Regions from separate parts of the Homo sapiens genome. Here region 2 is linked to region 1. The links come from fine-mapping of genetic effects on gene expression. Tissue or cell type: whole blood. Region 1 holds a variant in brackets; the other region holds the start of a gene. All regions are shown on one strand. Distances are from middle to middle.

Region 1 (8,000 bases):
GCAGCGCCTGTTTACATGTGGCCAAATACTGTGCCCAACATTTAACACAACTGACATTTGTTTTTTTCTTTTCTTTCTTTCTTTCTTCCTTTTTTTTTTTTTTTTGAGACGGAGTCTCGCTCTGTCGCCCGGGCTGGAGTGCAGTGGCGGGATCTCGGCTCACTGCAAGCTCCGCCTCCCGGGTTCACGCCATTCTCCTGCCTCAGCCTCCCAAGTAGCTGGGACTACAGGCGTCCGCCACTATGCCCGGCTAATTTTTTGTATTTTTAGTAGAGACGGGGTTTCACCGTTTTAGCCGGGATGGTCTCGATCTCCTGACCTCGTGATCCACCCGCCTCGGCCTCCCAAAGTGCTGGGATTACAGGCGTGAGCCACCGCGCCCGGCCCTCTTTCTTTTTTTGAGACAGTGTCTCACTCTGTTGTCAGGCTGGAGTGCAGTGGCACAATCTCAGCTCACAGCAACCTCCACCTCCCGGGTTCAAGCGATTCTCCTGCCTCAGCCTCCTGAGCTGCTGGGATTACAGGCGTGTGTTACCACACCCAGCTAATTTTTGTATTTTTAGTAGAGACGGGGTTTCACCATGTCGGCCAGGATGGTCTGGATCTCGAGTGACCTCGTGGTCCGCCCACCTCGGCCTCCCAAAGTGCTGGGATTACAGGTGTGAGCCACTGCGCCCAGTCTGTGCTGAACATTTAACACAGCTGACATTGCATTTTTTCTTTTTTTTTTTTTTTTGAGACAGGGTCTCACTGTGTTGTGCAGGCTGGAGAGCAGTGGTACAATCAGGGCTCACAGCAGCCTCCACCTCCTGGGCTCAAGCGATCCTCCTGCCTCAGCCTCCCAAACTGCTGGGATTACAGGTGACAGTTGCTGCTCGGGGCCAGTGGTGGTATTTCTCTCCCCACAATCCCACAGGCAAGGCCCCACAGTCAGCCTGAGGGTCAAATACGACCTGCTGCCTGCTTTTGTAAATAAAGCTTTATCGGAACATAACCACATCAGTCCGCTGACATGTGGCCTGTGGCAGCTTCCGACCAGAACCGTAGAGCTGAATGTCAGGATGGAGGCTGCCACGCAAAGCTGAAATGTTCACTATCTGGCCCCTTACAGAAGAAGGCTGTCAGCCCTGCTGCCGGCTCTGGGGTGGGTTCGATTCCCTGCCCCAGTGAGGAGCCTGAGGCCTTACTACGTGCCACTCGTGTGCTGGTAGTGTGACACACACTCCCGTGGAGGGCACCAGGGAGTGGCCAGGGAGCACCGTGGCCAGCGTGGGGGCCGCTGCAGGACCCTGGGTGGGCTGCTTAACCCCCTGGCCTCACTCCCCCCATCAGTTCCCGGCCAGGCCTCATGCTAGTGGCCTGTTACTTCCTCTGGGACATATAGGGAAACTGAGGCTCAGGGCAGCCCCATGGTCTGGCCAAGGGTCCCAGAGAGGAAGTGGCCAACCTCAGGGCTTACGCTTTTCCCTTCTGGGAGCTCAGCTTCATGGTGAGGAGGGCAGCCTTCCCTCCGGCATGACCTGGGCACACGACTTCACCTTTCTGTGGGCCACCTGTGGTAGGTGCCGGGGAAGTGCTAAGCCAGCATGCAGTAGGTGCTCAGTAAATGCAGGGTTGGTGTGCAGCAGGTGCTCAGTAATGCAGGGCTGGTACACAGTAGGTGCTCAGTGATGCTGGGCCAGAATGCAATAGGTGCTCAGTAAATGTGGGGCTGGTGTGCAATAGGTACTCAGTAATGCTGGGGCGGTGTGCAGTGGGTGCTCAGTAAATGCTGGGCCAGTAAGCAATAGGTGCTTAGTAAACGTGGGGTCGGTGTGCAGTGGGTGCTCAGTAATACAGGGCCGGTGTAGAGTAGGTGCTCAGTGAATGCAGGGCCAGTACACGGTAGGTACTCAGTAATGCTGGGGCGGTGTGCAGTGGGAGTGAAGTAAATGCTGGGCCAGCATGCAATAGGTGCTCAGTAAATGTAGGGTCAGTGTGCAGTGGGTGCTCAGTAATACAGGGCTGGTGTACAGTAGGTGCTTAGTGAATGCAGGGCTGGTACATAGTAGGTGCTCAGCAAATGTGGGGCCAGTGTGCAGTGGGTGCTCAGTAATGCTGGGTCTGTGTACAGTGGGTGCTCAGTAAATGCTGGGCCAGCATGCAATAGGTGCTCAGTAAATGTGGGGCCGGGGCAGGTTGGTGTGCAGCAGGTGCTCAGTAATGCAGGACTAGTGCACAGTAGGTGCTCAGTAATGCTGGGGTTGTGTGCAGTGGGTGCTCACTAAATGCTGGGCCAGGATGCAATAGGTGCTCAGTAAATGTGGGGCCAGTGTGCAGTAGGTGCTCAGTAAATGTGGGGCTGGTGTGCAGTAGGTACTCAGTAATGCTGGGCTGGTGTGCAGTAGGTACTCAGTAATGCTGGGCTGGTGTGCAGTAGGTACTCAGTAATGCTGGGCTGGTGTGCAGTAGGTACTCAGTAATGCAGGGCCAGTATGCAGTAGGTGCTCAGTAATGCTGGGCTGGTGTGCAGTAGGTGTTCAGTAATGCAGGGCCGGCATGCAGTAGGTGCTCAGTAAATGCTGGGCGGGTGCACAGTAGGTGCTCAGTAATGCTGGGCCGGTGCACGGTGGGTGCCTGGTGAACACGTGCCTCCCTGGTCATCACTGCTGCTCAGTTCAGGGCTTAGGGATGGACGTGCCATCTCAGCGAGCTCGAGGGTCAAAGCTCTGCTATGGAGGAGGAAACTGAGGCCCAGAGGCAGGAGGGCAGCGACCTGCAATTCAACTCTAGGCCCATCTGGCTGTACGCTCCTTTTCCCTCCCAAGTAGTAAAGGCCCCATTTGTTGGCCCTTATAATCCGCTGGGCGCTTTTACCATCCATGAGGTCATCCCCAAAATGCGCTGGGGGCAGTCGCAGTGTCAGCGCGGCGGCCCGAGCTCCCATCACGCCTGACCTCTCCGCATGACCCAGCAGGAGCCGCACCGGGGCCCCTCTCATCAGGATCTGCTGTGAGGCCGGGCAGGCTGCTGCCGCCTCACAGATCACACCCCAAACCTAGAGGCCCAAAACCAACAAGCATTTACTATTGACACAGCGTCTCGGCGGCGGCTTTGCTGCGAGGCTCTGGCTTGGGGTCTCTTAGGAGGTTGCCGTGGCCACACTCCCCCGGGGCTCGACGCGAGGCGGCCCAGTCCCCCGCAGGGGAACCCGCGCGGCTCTTGGCAGCGGCTGCAGGTGCTCCCTGGGAGCTGCGCGAGCGACCCCACCGCATGGCGGCTGCCCAGCCGAGCCAGCAACCCACCCAGGAGGGAGGGGGACACCACGATGTCCTTCGTGACCCGCCTCGGAGGCCACACTCTGTCCGTTGCTTCTGCAGTCCCGTTCCGGCTGTGCAGGGGGAAGGGACGGCACCAGGCCGTGAACCCCGGGAGCCGAGGCTTGCAGGGGCATCTCGAAGGCTGGCGACGGCAGCGCTGCTCCGCGGATCCCTCCGCCACTTCTCCACCCGCCACTTCTCCACCCCGCCGAGGGTGAGCCTCTGGGCCTTGCTTTGCCCCCTGAAACGTGCGAGGGGGCGTGGCCCACTTTCAGCGGGAATGTTAAGAGCCATCGTGCTACTTCTCAGTCCACTTCTCTGTGGTCATGATTGCAGGTGCGTGTCAAGATCAGACAAGCCCTTGGTGGGGGGTGGGTGGGGGTGCCGTGGCTCCTGCCTGTGAGCCCAGCACTTTGGGAGGCCGAGGCAGGAGGATTGCTTGAGTCCAGGAGTTCGAAACCAGCCTGGGCAACATAGTGAGATCCTGTCTCTACAAAAATTTAAAAATCAGCCAGGTGTGGTGACGTGCGTCTGTGGTCCCGGGTACTTGGGAGGCTGAGGTGGGAGGATCCCTTGAGCCCAGGCGGTCGAGGCTGCAGTGAGCTGGGATTGCACCACTGCACTGCAGGCTGCGTGACAGCAAGACCCTGGCTCAAAAAGAAAACTGGGCCAGGCACAGTGGCTTATGCCTGTAATCCCAGCACTTTGGGAGGCCGAGGCGGGTGGATCACTTGAGGTCAGGAGTTCAAGACCAGCCTGGCCAACATGGTGAAACCCCGTCTCTACTAAAAATACAAAAATTAGCCGGGTGTGGTGGGGGCGCCTGTAGTCCCAGCTACTCGGGAGGCTGAGGCAGGAGAATGGCGTCAACCCAGGAGGCGGAACTTGTAGTGAGCCGAGATCGCGCCACTGCACTCCAGCCTGGGTGACAGAACCAGACTCCATCTCAAAAAAAACAACAAAAAAACAACTGGACGTCCCCTGCAGAGTAAGCGAGAAGAGTTTTGCTTGTGTTGAAGCCACTGAGGTTTGGGGTTGTTG[G/C]TTCCTGTCGTGCTCGCAGCTTCTGACTGACAGGTCTGTGGGCCGGGATTACCCAGCGCCATCCACCACCACTTCTGCATAAATGCTCTCCTCTCTGGGGGCGGCAGCCCTGGTCCAGCTCCGCAAGCATCCACGCGGCCCCTCGGTGTGCAGGGCTCTGTGCCTGGCCCAGGCCTGCCTCGGGTGTTCGTCTGCCCCTCCCAGCTGTGTGCACTCTCCTTTTCTGCACCTGGCCTTGTGCATCTACGGAGTGGGGGTTCTTGTGAGGACGGGAGAACGGGGCTGGAGCCAGGTGCTCAGGACAGCAGCTGGCATACGTGTGGGAGGCCCCACCTGCTTATTTTGGGCTGTAATTAGGGCTGCAGCTCAGCCACAGCTGCCTTGAGGGGCAGGAAGACACACAAAGAGGTAATTACAGCCTGGTGAGATCACAGCCATGATGACGGCAGGAGACAGGAAGGTGACAGCCCACTTCAAGGCGGCCGCATACCCGCCCCTCCTGGGCTCCCGGGCGGCTCCCAGCAGAATCATCGGGTGAGGGAGGAGGAGGAAGAGGAAGGCAGCAAGCTCTGGGCTCGGAGGAGGAGGCCGGGGCTGGAACGTCAGCTCTGCCTGTGACGGTGGCCTCTGGGCCTTGGTTTCCCTGATTGCAAAATGGAAAGCGGGAGCCCAGCCAGGGCTCCGTCTGTGTCGGCTCCTACACAGAGCGGTTTGTAAGGCGTGTGAGCATTTGTTAATACAGGAAAGATTCTATTTATGGAACGTCTCCAGAAAGAGACAGGAGCCACCCTACACCTTAGACTTCTGCTTCCCACTCCTGCCCCCAGCAGACGCCGGGCGGTGTCTGGGACATCTGTGGTTGTCACGACTCGGGGAGCTCCTGGCAAGGAGTGGGTGGAGGCCAGGGACGCTGCTCAGGGCCCTGCAGTACCCAGGACGGCCCCCAGAGGACGAGTCGGGGGAACCCTGGCCCAGATCAGCTGGGGCTTCGTTTTCGTGCACGTTTTCCTGGCAGTGACCTGCAGGGGGCAGTGCAGCCCTTGCTGCCAGGATGAGCAACGTGGTGGCTGAGGAGGCCTCCGGGGCTGCACTCTGGGGCTCTCTGACCCCAGCTCTGCCCTCGGTGGCCGTGTGGCCTTCAGCAAGTCATGTAACGTCTGTGTGTGTGCTCCAGGGGGCCTTGGAGACGACCAGGAAGGTGGCAGGAGGGGGACACTGTGGCTGCCATCACCAGCCCTGGCGGCCGGAGCTTGCCATTTCTCAAAAGAAGGTGCCAGGGAGGATCTGGGGTGACTTCTCCCCCAGCCTACCACGGTGATGCTCTCAGGAGCAGCCCCAGTCAGCCCCTCAGCCTTTGGGGGTCAACACACTGGACTGAGTGGGGACAAATCTGCCAGGCTCTGAGCTTCTCTTTTTTTTTTTTTGAGACAGAGTCTCGCTCTGTCGCCCAGGCTGGAGTGCAGTGGCGCGATCTCGGCTCAATGCAAGCTCCGCCTCCTGGGTTCATGCCATTCTCCTGCCTCAGCCTCCCGAGTAGCTGGGACTACAGGCGCCCGCCACCACACCCGGCTAATTTTTTGTATTTTTAGTAGAGACGGGGTTTCACCGTGTTAGCCAGGATGGTCTCGATCTCCTGACCTTGTGATCCGCCCGCCTCGGCCTCCCAAAGTGCTGGGATGACAGGCGTGAGCCACCGCGCCCGGCTGCTCTGGGCTTCTCTTCCTGACTGGTCAGGTGACCTCAGGGGTTCCTGACGGTCCAAGGATGGAGGGGCGGCCGGAGCTGCCTGCTGGGAGGACGGGAGCAGGCCTGGCTCCATGAGCACAGAATCAGATGCCACGCAGGTCTGTGCACCTGTCTTCTGCATTCCCCACTGGCTGTGTCTCTGGGGAGCCCAGGCGAGCCCAGGGCCGGGATGCATCTGCCACCAGCACCACCCTTGCCCTGAGTCCCTGCTATGAGAACTCTTCCAGCCAATGGCTCCACTCCTGTCCTGGGGTGACTGGTGCCCACCAAACTCACGCCCATCCAGAACCTCAGACTGAGAGCTTATTTGAGACAGCAGCTTTGCAGATGTAGGCGGTTGAGGTCACACTGGAGTAGGGTGGGGCCTAGTGGTGTCCTTATGAGGGAACACAGAACAGAGACACACAGGAGGCCACGTGACGACGGAGGCAGAGACTGCAGCAATGTGGCCACAAGCCAAAGACTGCTGGCCGCCACTGGAGGCTGGGGAGGCAAGGAAGGCTCCTTCCCTGGAGCCTCCAGAGGGAGTGTGGTCCTCCTGACACTCCGATTTCAGACTTCTGCCCTCCAGAACTGTGAGAGAATAAATTTCTGTTGTTTTAAGCCACTAAGTTGGAGGTAATTTGTTCCAGCAGCCCTCGGAAATTAATATAAATATAAATATCCTCATCTGCAGTGTCTACGGGGTGAGTGGCTTGTGCAGTGCTCAACCTGAACAACCATACGTGGTGGGCCTGCTGTTGACCCCTTTTCCTCCTTGGGAGATTCTCTTCCGGATGTCCTGGGAGGCCATCTTCCTCCTGCTCCCCGTTCACCTCTGGTCTCACGTTCTCACCCTCTCTGGTGGGCTCTCTGGGCTAGGTGCCCTCAGAGTGGGGTCCTGAGCTCTTCTCATCTCTCCTGAAGACTTCAGGACCCCTCCAGTTCAGTCTTCTGTCCTGGCCCCACGTCAGTTGCAGACGCTTCTTTCTACCTTCCTGTCTCCAGGCTCCTCCCAGCCTCCAACTTAATCCGCAAGTGGCTCTGGCAGCTTCTTCAAACCAGGGGCCTTCCATCGCAGTAAACGGCTCCACTGACCCTCTGGGCCTGCCCTTGCCCGCTCCCCTCCCACCTGGCTCCAGCAAATCATCGGGCGGGGCCTTCAGAGCCACTGGGCCACCGGAGCAAGTCTGCTCCTTGTCCAGGTACCCAACACCCTGCCACCCTTATCTGAGTATGATCTTGGACACCTGTGCACCCTGAACGTGGTAGGGGGGACACTCCCCATCTCTCTTCTCCCCCCGAACTTCTCTGGGACTCTGGCGAGGGCTGCCATGGTGGGCGCTTATGCCCTGGTTATGAGGCTGAAAGGGCACCTTTGCTTGGCATCCTTCCCTGCCTGCTCTTCCCACCCCCTTCCTGGGTTCTCTTGGGCGCACCCCCTTGTAAAATCACCTGCACACACAATGCCTACCTCAGGCTCCGCTTCTGGGGACCCCCCCCCCAACAAAAGACATCAGCCCATCCATCCCCAACGCCAACAGATAGTCCCCAACCACCTTCCCTGGGCTCAGAACTGGCCCCAGCCAGGGGACACCGCGCGTAGGCACCTGCAGCCTCGCATGCTTCAGCCAAATTCCGTGGCTTTCCCGCCTCCCGTGTGCCCCACACTCGGGGTCTAAATTTGCACCTGCTGGGCCTCTTCCCTGCAACCCGCCCGCACATCGCCAGGCTCTTCCAGGAATCCCCACCTGCCCGCTGGGAGCCTGTCCCCTAAGATGGGGGCCCTGGGTGACTGCGCTGCTCTCTGTAAATATTCACGTTCTGGCTGAATGGACGGGGATAACATGAGGCTGCTAAGGAGGCGACTAGGAGGACCTGGCTCGGGGGCTGGCTCTGCGACCTCGGGCCAAGTCCTCTTGAGCTGCACGATTT
Region 2 (8,000 bases), 33 kb before region 1:
CAGCAGTGCGGGGGGAGGGTCGGCAGCGGGGGGAGGGCGCAGTGGGGGTGAGGGGCACCCGTGGGGGACAGGAGGGTGCCCAGTTCTCCCTGTCCCGTCCCTGCACACCTGAAGCAGCGCGAGGTCGTTCTCCAGGGCAGGGACGGGCTTGTAGCGAGGGTGCTGGATGGCTGCCTTGATGTGGAAGGTGAGACCGGGGCTGTCCAGGGTGTGGAGCCCCAGCACCAGCCTCAGCTGGGCCATCCTGGGGACAGAGGGAATCAGGGTGCTGCGGCCTGGCCCGGCGTGGACGACCCGCCACATGCAGTCCCGGCCCCCACTGTGCCCGTTGTCCATGGCCATCACTCACAGCCGCTGCCCCTCACAGGCCTTGGCTTGGCCAGTCCTTCCCTGTGTCTTTGCAACCCACCTCCTCCAGGAAGCCCTCCCTGCTCTCACCCCTGCCCCAGACTTCTGCCCGGCCCTGGCCCCAGGCAAGGGCTGTGTGTCCAAAAATCCAACCCCAAGCCTACAGCTTCACGAAAACCAGCCCTGGGAATTCCCTTCACTTGGGGCCCCAGGCTCAACCACAGTGATTTGTACAGGGGTTGACACATGCCAATCCTCCTAAGTGTGCCCCAACTTTAGAGAGCCAAGCCCTCTTTCCATGGGACTGAGGAGGGTCAATCTTTCCACCTTGTGAGACAGGCTTCCTGGTAGTGCAGCAGAGCTGGGAGACAGATGGGCTCCACAGCGCCTCCTGTGAGCACCTGGATCAAGCCGCACCTGAAGCCAGGCCTCCTCCTAGACTTTGCAGTTACACAAGCCGGCAGATCCCTTTTTGTTACTTTGACCATCTTGATCTGGGCTCTGTATGACGGACCAGTCCTGAGGTAGGGCAACTCCATGATGGGTCATTTAGCGGCTTCCTGATCCCCGGGAACCAGGTCGATTCCCGAGCCACTCTCGAAGGCCGGCTTCGACCTCCTGGCCACAGGTGGCAAACACCCCCACCTGACCCTCCTTCCTTATAGCAGAAGCCCCCGCCTAAGTTGGGTCCATCAGCAGGTGAATGGACAGACACAATGCACTCTGTCCACACCAGGACTGTGGCTCAGCCGTGAAAGGAGCCAGGCTCTGACCCAGGCTGCGGTGTGGAAGGAGCTGGCCCTGCCAGTGCCTCTTGCAAGGAGTAAACCTTCTCCAGGAGTCCCACAGCCGCAGGTCACTTAAACCTGCCTAAGTCGTCACCGGGAGGGGACGGGGGTCCCACAATGGGCCTAAATCTCCCAGAGCCCACCCCCTGCAGAGAATGGGCGCCGTCGGATGGATTCCCCGGACCCCTGGGGTGGGCAGGGCAGGGTACTCACCGCTGGGCCAGGCAGTGGGCAGCCGTCAGCACCCACTTTGGGTGCACCAGGACACCCCCGCACAGGTGGGAGCCATTTCTCTGCAGTGAGGCCATGTACGGGCGCGAGTGGGGGATCACCTCCCGGCCCCCGATGATCTGGGTCCCAAAGGAGCTGCCTGCCAGGATGGGGGACAAAGAGCCAGGTTGGGGCTACATGCCCCTGCTGCCTGCTGCGACTGTCCTTGCCCAGCTCAGAGGCCCAGGACCCCAAGCAGATGTGCCATCCTAATGAAGTCCCCAGTGTTCCCCGAAACTTTTAGGCTGATACGTGTGGGCTGCCCTTCATCCCTCCCATCCCCCTCTCATCACCCCCATCATGTTCCCCCCAGGCCACCTCCCAATCCCCTCTCCAGGACCTCCCCAGGCCCCACTGGGCCCCACAGCCACAGGAGTCCTTCAAAACGCACATCAGGCCGGATGTGGGTGGCTCACCCCTGTGATCCCAGCACTTCGGGAGGCTGAGGAGGGAGGATCACTTGAGGCCAGGAGTTCGAGACCAGCCTGGGCGACACAGCAAGACCCAGTCTCTTAAAAAAAACTTTTTTTTTCTTTTTTTTTGAGACAGAGTCTCGCTCTGTCACCCAGGCTGGAGTGCAATGGCACGATCTCGGCTCACTGCAAGCTCCGCCTCCTGGGTTCATGCCATTCTCCTGACTCAGTCTCCCGAGTAGCTGGGACTACAGGCACCTGCCACCACGCCTGGATAATTTTTGTATTTTTAGTACAGATGGGGTTTCACCATGTTAGCCAGGCTGGTCTCGAACTCCTGACCTTGTGATCCACCCATCTCAGCCTCCCAAAGTGCTGGGATTACAGGTATGAGCCACTGCACCTGGCCATTTTTTTTTTTTTTTTGAGATGGAGTCTCACTCTGTTACCCAGCCTGGAATGCAGTGCCGTGATCTCAGCTCACTGCAACCTCTGCCTCCTGGGTTCAAGCGATTCTCCTGCCTCAGCCTCCCGAGTAGCTGGGATTACAGAAGCGCATCACCACGTCCGGCTAATTTTTTTGTATTTTTAGTAGCGACAGGGTTTCGCCGTGTTGGCCAGGCTGGCCTCAAACACCTAACCTCAGGTGATCCACCCTCCTTGGCCTCCCAAAGTGCTGGGATGACAGGCGTGAGCCACTGTGCCCAGCAAGAAATGTAGTCTTTAAATAAGTAAATTGTATAGTGCATAATTTCCTAATAAAGCTGTACAAAAATTATTTTAAATCAATCATAAATATAAAAGGATTGATTTCATAATGTAACGTAAATCAGCTCAAAATCTTCTCTGAATCCCCATCATGCTTTGAAAATCAAGTCCCCGCTTGCGGGCCGGTGCAGTGGCTCACGCCTATAATCCCAGCACTTTGGGAGGTCAAGGTGGGCAGACAGCCTGAGGTCAGGAGTTGGAGATCAGCCTGGCCAATGTGGTAAAACCCCGTCTGTACTAAAAATACAGAAATTAAGGCCGGGTGCGGTGGCTCACGCCTGTAATCCCAGCACTTTGGGAGGCCGAGGCAGGTGGATCACGAGGTCAGGAGATCGAGACCATCCTGGCTAACACGGTGAAACCCCGTCTCTACTAAAAATACAAAAAATTAGCCGGGCGAGGTGGCGGGCATCTGTAATCTCAGCTACTTGGGAGGCTGAGACAGGAGAATCGCTTGAACCCGGGAGGCAGAGGTTGTGGTGAGCCGAGATCGTGCCATTGCACTCCAGCCTGGGCAAGAATAGCAGAACTCCATCTTAAAAAAAAAAAATAGGCCGGGCGCGGTGGCTCACGCCTGTAATCCCAGCGCTTTGGGAGGCCGAGGCAGGCGGATCACCTGAGGTTGGGAGTTTGAGACCAGCCTGACCAACACGGGGAAACCCTGTCTCTACTAAAAATACAAAATTAGCCCGGCATGGTGGCAGGCGCCTGTAATCCCAGCTACTCGGGAGGCTGAGGCAGGAGAATCGCTTGAAACCAGGAGGCGGAGGCTGCAGTGAGCCGAGATGGCACCATCGCACTCCAGCCTGGGTGACAAGAGTGCAAGTCTAGCTGTGCCTGCAAGCTGCCTGCACCCTGGGCCTTTGTCTGTCTCACTTAGCTGCCTGCGTACCTTTCCCCCACCGGCTTCCTCCCTTGGTTTATGCTCGTCTCCTGCAACGGCCCCCCACCCGCCCTCTTGCCCTCCGTGTTTCCTCCGCTCTGCACAGTCTCATGCCTGGCCTGTCTCTTCCAGTCAGACAGGAGGGCAGGCCTAGAACAGCACGAGCCCTGCAAATACGGATGGATACACAGAAGCACGGGAGAAAGGAAGGAGGGATGGAAGGAGGAATGGATGATGGATGGATGGGAGGGAGGAGGGAAGGAGGGGGGAAAGGAAGAGAGAGGCATGATGGATGGATGGGTGGATACATGGAAGGAGGGAGGGAAGGATGACGGGTGGAGGGAAGGAGGGAGGTTGAAAGGAGGGATGGATGATGGATGGACGGGTGGGTGGAAGAATGGGAGGAAGGAGGAATGATGGGTGGATGGACTGGCGGAGGGAAGGAAGGGGGAACGAAAGGAGGGAGGGAGGGATGGATGATGGACCCATGGGTAGAGGGATGGATGATGGATGGGTGGGTGGAAGAATGGAAGGAGGAATGATGGGTGGACGGACGGGTAGAGGGAAGGAAGGGGAGATGAGGGAGGGAGGGAGGGAGGGAGGGAGGGATGATGGACCCATGGGTGGAAGGAAATAAAAATGGGAGGAAGGATGATGATGACTGACGGCTGGATTCCTACCTCTGTCCATCTTCTTGGGTCCCCAACTCATCAAGAGCCCCTGTCACTCAGTCCAGCTGGAATGCAGGGGAGCCGCCACCCACCTCCCTTCTCCCTCACTGCTGGGCACCTAGTCCCAGCCAAGCCCTTGGTGGTGGCAGGCAGCCAGCGGGGATCGAGTCCCAGCTCTGCCCTCCCAGCTGGGCAGTCCTAGGTCAGCATCTCCTTCGCCAAGTCTCAGTCTCCTACTCTGCACCTCGGGTGTGAGCGTGACCCCTGCCTTCTGGCTGCTGCCGGGAGGATGGGCGAGGTGAGCCGGTGGACACCACACTCTCCCACGGTCCCGGGATGTCCACTCGGGGTGAAGCGTGAGGAGCTCGGGATGCCCCAGGCCTCAGTCCCCCTCCAAACAAGGATGAATCTCCGCTCTTACACCCAGGATGTCGGCGCCCGCGCCCACCCCTCCCATCCAGGGACCCACCGAGAGCGCTGGGCCTCAGTGTCCCCCCTGCATCCCGGCTCCCACTCACCTACTGACAGGGCCCCCAGGGCCAGCACCAGCAGTGAAGACACGCAGGCCTCCATGCCGCTGTGGAGACCCAGTGTGGGTGCTGGCCCCGGCCCCGAGCCTCCCCACACGCGCTTCCTGTGGGGGAGGTGAGGTGACGGTCACAGCCCCGCCCACCGCTGCACACCCTCCACCCTCCATCCTTGAGCATTTTAGAAAGTGTTTCTCAAAGAGGACTCGAGATGAAGCCACACTACCATCATCACACCTGACAAAGTAACACTTTTTTTTTTTTTTTTTTTTCAGAGATGGAGTCTCGCTCTGTCGCCCAGGCTGGAGTGCGGTGGTGCGATCTCGGCTCACTGCAAGCTCCGCCTCCCGGGTTCACGCCATACTCCGGCCTCAGCCTCCCGAGTAGTGGGACTACAGGTGCCCACCACCACGCCCGGCTAATTTTCGTATTCTTAGTAGAGACGAGGTTTCACCATGTTGACCAGGCTGGTCTCAAACTCCCGACCTCAGGTGATCCACCCACCTCGGCCTCCCAGTGCTGGGATTACAGGCATGAGCCACCGCGCCCGGCCACTACTTCCTGCCTCTGAATTGGTCTCTAGGGACCTCCCAGGAGTGGAATCACACAGGACCTGTTGCGTTGGCGTCTCTCCCAGCATGACGTCCTCAAGGTGCATCCAGGCTGTGGCCTGTGTCAGAGCCTCGCTCCTTTTTGTGGCTGTGTCACATCCCATTGTGTGGCTGGACCACGCTGTGTTTATGCATTCACCAGCGGACGGATATTTGCGCTGTTCTAGTTTTTGGTCTTCATGAATAAAGACACTGGCCGAAGGCGGTGGCTCACACCTGTAATCCCAGCACTTTGAGAGACTGGGGCAGGAGGATCGCTTGAGCCCAGGTTGGGGCTGCAGTGAGCCGTAATTGCACCACTGCTCTTCAGCCTGGGTGACAGAGCAAGACCCTGTCTCAAAAATAAATAAATTTAGGCCGGGCGCGGCGGCTCACGCCTGTAATCCCAGCACTTTGGGAGGCCGAGGCGGGCGATCACCTGAGGTTGGGAGTTCGAGACCATCCTGGCCAACATGGTGAAACCCCATCTCTACTAAAAATACAAAAATCAGCTGGGCATGGTGGTGGGAGCCTGTAGTCCCAGCTACTCAGGAGGCTGAGGCAGGAGAATCACTTGAACCCAGGAGGCGAGATCGCACCACTGCACTCCAGCCTGGGCAACACAAGACTGTGTCTCAAAAACAAAACCAAACCAAACCAAGCAGCTATGGATGATCCTGAGACCTGGGTGTGGCTGTGCCAGTAACACTTCACTCACAATAGGGGCGGACGCCAGGTTTGGTCCCGAGGGCCATGGTTTGCTGAGACCCCAGGGCCCCATTTTCTGTCCCAACTTGGTGGGAAACCTCATCCTCACAGCTCCTCGACCCTGAATCAGCCACTGAGCGACTTTCCGGGTGCCCAGAAGCGGAACGCAGGCAGGTTCCTGGAAGGCGGTGCCCCGGGAGGGCATGGGAGCTCCGAGCTTTCCTCCATGACATGTAATAAAACGATGCTGGGGACTTCCTGACACCAGGACGTGAGGTGCCTGCCCTGTGTGCCCAGGGCCACGGCTCCCCACCCCGAGGGTGTGCCTGGACGGAGCTGGAGCCGCCGGAGTGCTGATCGGGGGCATCTGTGGTCCTGGGAGCCCTGAGACGCTGAGATCAACGCCCAGGCGGCTGTGGACCCGCGACGAAGCTTTGCTGGATGCCTGCAGAGGCAGCTCCCGTCCCACTAGATGCACCTGGTCACAGGGAGGAGGAACTCTGGGGGCTTTCTGGCCGCCCCTGTCCCGCAGGCTGGGGGATGCTGCCCAGGCCTGTCTGACCCAAGTCATGGGAACGTACAGGCCGCGGGACCCGGCTGCTCCCCGTGCCTCCCAGGACAGGCCTCCCAGATCCACACCTGGCGTAGCCAGGGTCCCAGTGGGACTGGCCGTGTGCAGTCACTCATGGACGTGGAGGCTGCCTCTCCCTCCCAAGCACAGCTTCTCTGGCCTCTCATAAAGTAGTTTTATTTAGATTTCAAACAAACCAAAGCAGGGAAAAGAGTCGGCCACGGTGAATCCGTCCACTCTGTGCTGGACGTGGCTCCAGGACCTGGAGCTGACAGGCAGGACCGGGCCCCTCGGACCGCTACACCTGGGCCTCCCAGGCTGGTAGTGTCAGGAAACGGCCCCCCGCCCACGTTCCCAGCAGCGCCCCCGTGGCTCCTCCGGGGTGCGGCCAGTCCGGAAGCTGGGGGACCCCGGTAGAAGTCGGGCTCAGCTCCCCTCCCGAGGGGACAGGTGGGCCGGCCGCTCCCACCCTGGGCCCGTCCACCGAGCCCCGAGTGACGTGAGTGGCGGTGGGGCAGCCCCTCTTCTCTGAAGCACGTGAAAACCCAGAACAGACATGGGGAGGGAGAAAAAGCCAAAACGAAACAACCAGAGGAGACGGGGACCAGCACAAAACCTCCGTGAGGTAGTCTGTCGTCTAAGGAGCCACGGGTCCGGCCCTAGTGAGGTAAACTCGGCAAGTTTATTCTGGTGGTGTCAGGACTCCTCCGTGCCAGAGTCATCCTCATCGTCCCCGAAGCAGCTGTCGGCCTCCTCCTCCACCTCGCCGTCCTCGTAGTAGTCGTCGTAGAAGAGGTCTGAGCCCTCGTCGGGCGCCGGCGCCTTGGTCTTCACGCAGTACTCGGCCAGCGTGGTGGGCACCTTCACGCCGTCACGCTCCGCGTCCACCTTGGTCCCCAGGACCTGCTTCCTGGGGGGACAGGGTGGGTGAGGGCGCCACCCACGTGCCTGGACTCGGCCCCTGCCCGGCCCCCCTCCCCCAGGTCCGACGCTCACCCCAACGCTCAGGTTTCTCTTAAAACGGCGTGTGGCGACCACTTAGGACAAAGCCCTGTGCGTGAGGAACTCCAGGGGGAGAAATGACAGAGGAGGGGGCTCGGGAAGGGCAGGAGGTGCGGGTGGGAGGCTGGACGGGCGCAGTGCAGTCACACCCGCCTGCCCCGCCCCGAAGCACAACCCAAGGGACCCATCAGGAGCTGGGAGAAAATAACGATGCCGGCAACAGGGAGGGCCCATGCTGCCCCACTGGGGGGCAAAAGCCTTCCTCAGCGCAGGAGCAAAGGAAGCAGCTGGGAGGGCCCAAGGACAGGAGGCAGGACCATCCCTGGAGACGGGAACCAGCACAGGTGAGATGGGAAACGCAAAAACGGCCTGAGCCTCTCCGTGGCCTCAGCAGGATTCTAAACCCGGGGGCCTGGCCACCCCGGCCTCCGGATTCTAAACCGGGGGGCCTGGCCATCCCA

What was found. PIP is the estimated chance that this variant, and not a neighbour inherited with it, causes the effect.
Region 2: it holds the start of GZMM, and the variant in region 1 is fine-mapped to the expression of GZMM in whole blood (TOPMed, PIP 0.95).

What each region holds. Positions count from the first base shown.
Region 1 is chr19:508,137-516,136 of GRCh38, reverse strand. The region is part of intron 1 of TPGS1 (tubulin polyglutamylase complex subunit 1); the gene reads right to left. Among named protein-coding and RNA genes, the nearest start is that of MADCAM1-AS1, 4.2 kb to the right of the region's middle. RefSeq lists enhancers at 3,377-4,218, 4,219-5,059, 5,358-5,657 and a silencer at 5,214-5,508. The variant G/C (reference allele first, on the strand shown) is at 4,341.
Region 2 is chr19:540,786-548,785 of GRCh38, reverse strand. It overlaps GZMM (granzyme M), which reads right to left and starts at 4,733. Exons shown (of 5, transcript NM_005317.4): 1 at 4,660-4,733; 2 at 1,350-1,506; 3 at 109-244. The coding sequence starts at 4,714. It overlaps CDC34 (cell division cycle 34, ubiquitin conjugating enzyme), which reads right to left. Exons shown (of 5, transcript NM_004359.2): 5 at 6,699-7,447. The coding sequence ends at 7,234. RefSeq lists an enhancer at 4,720-5,365.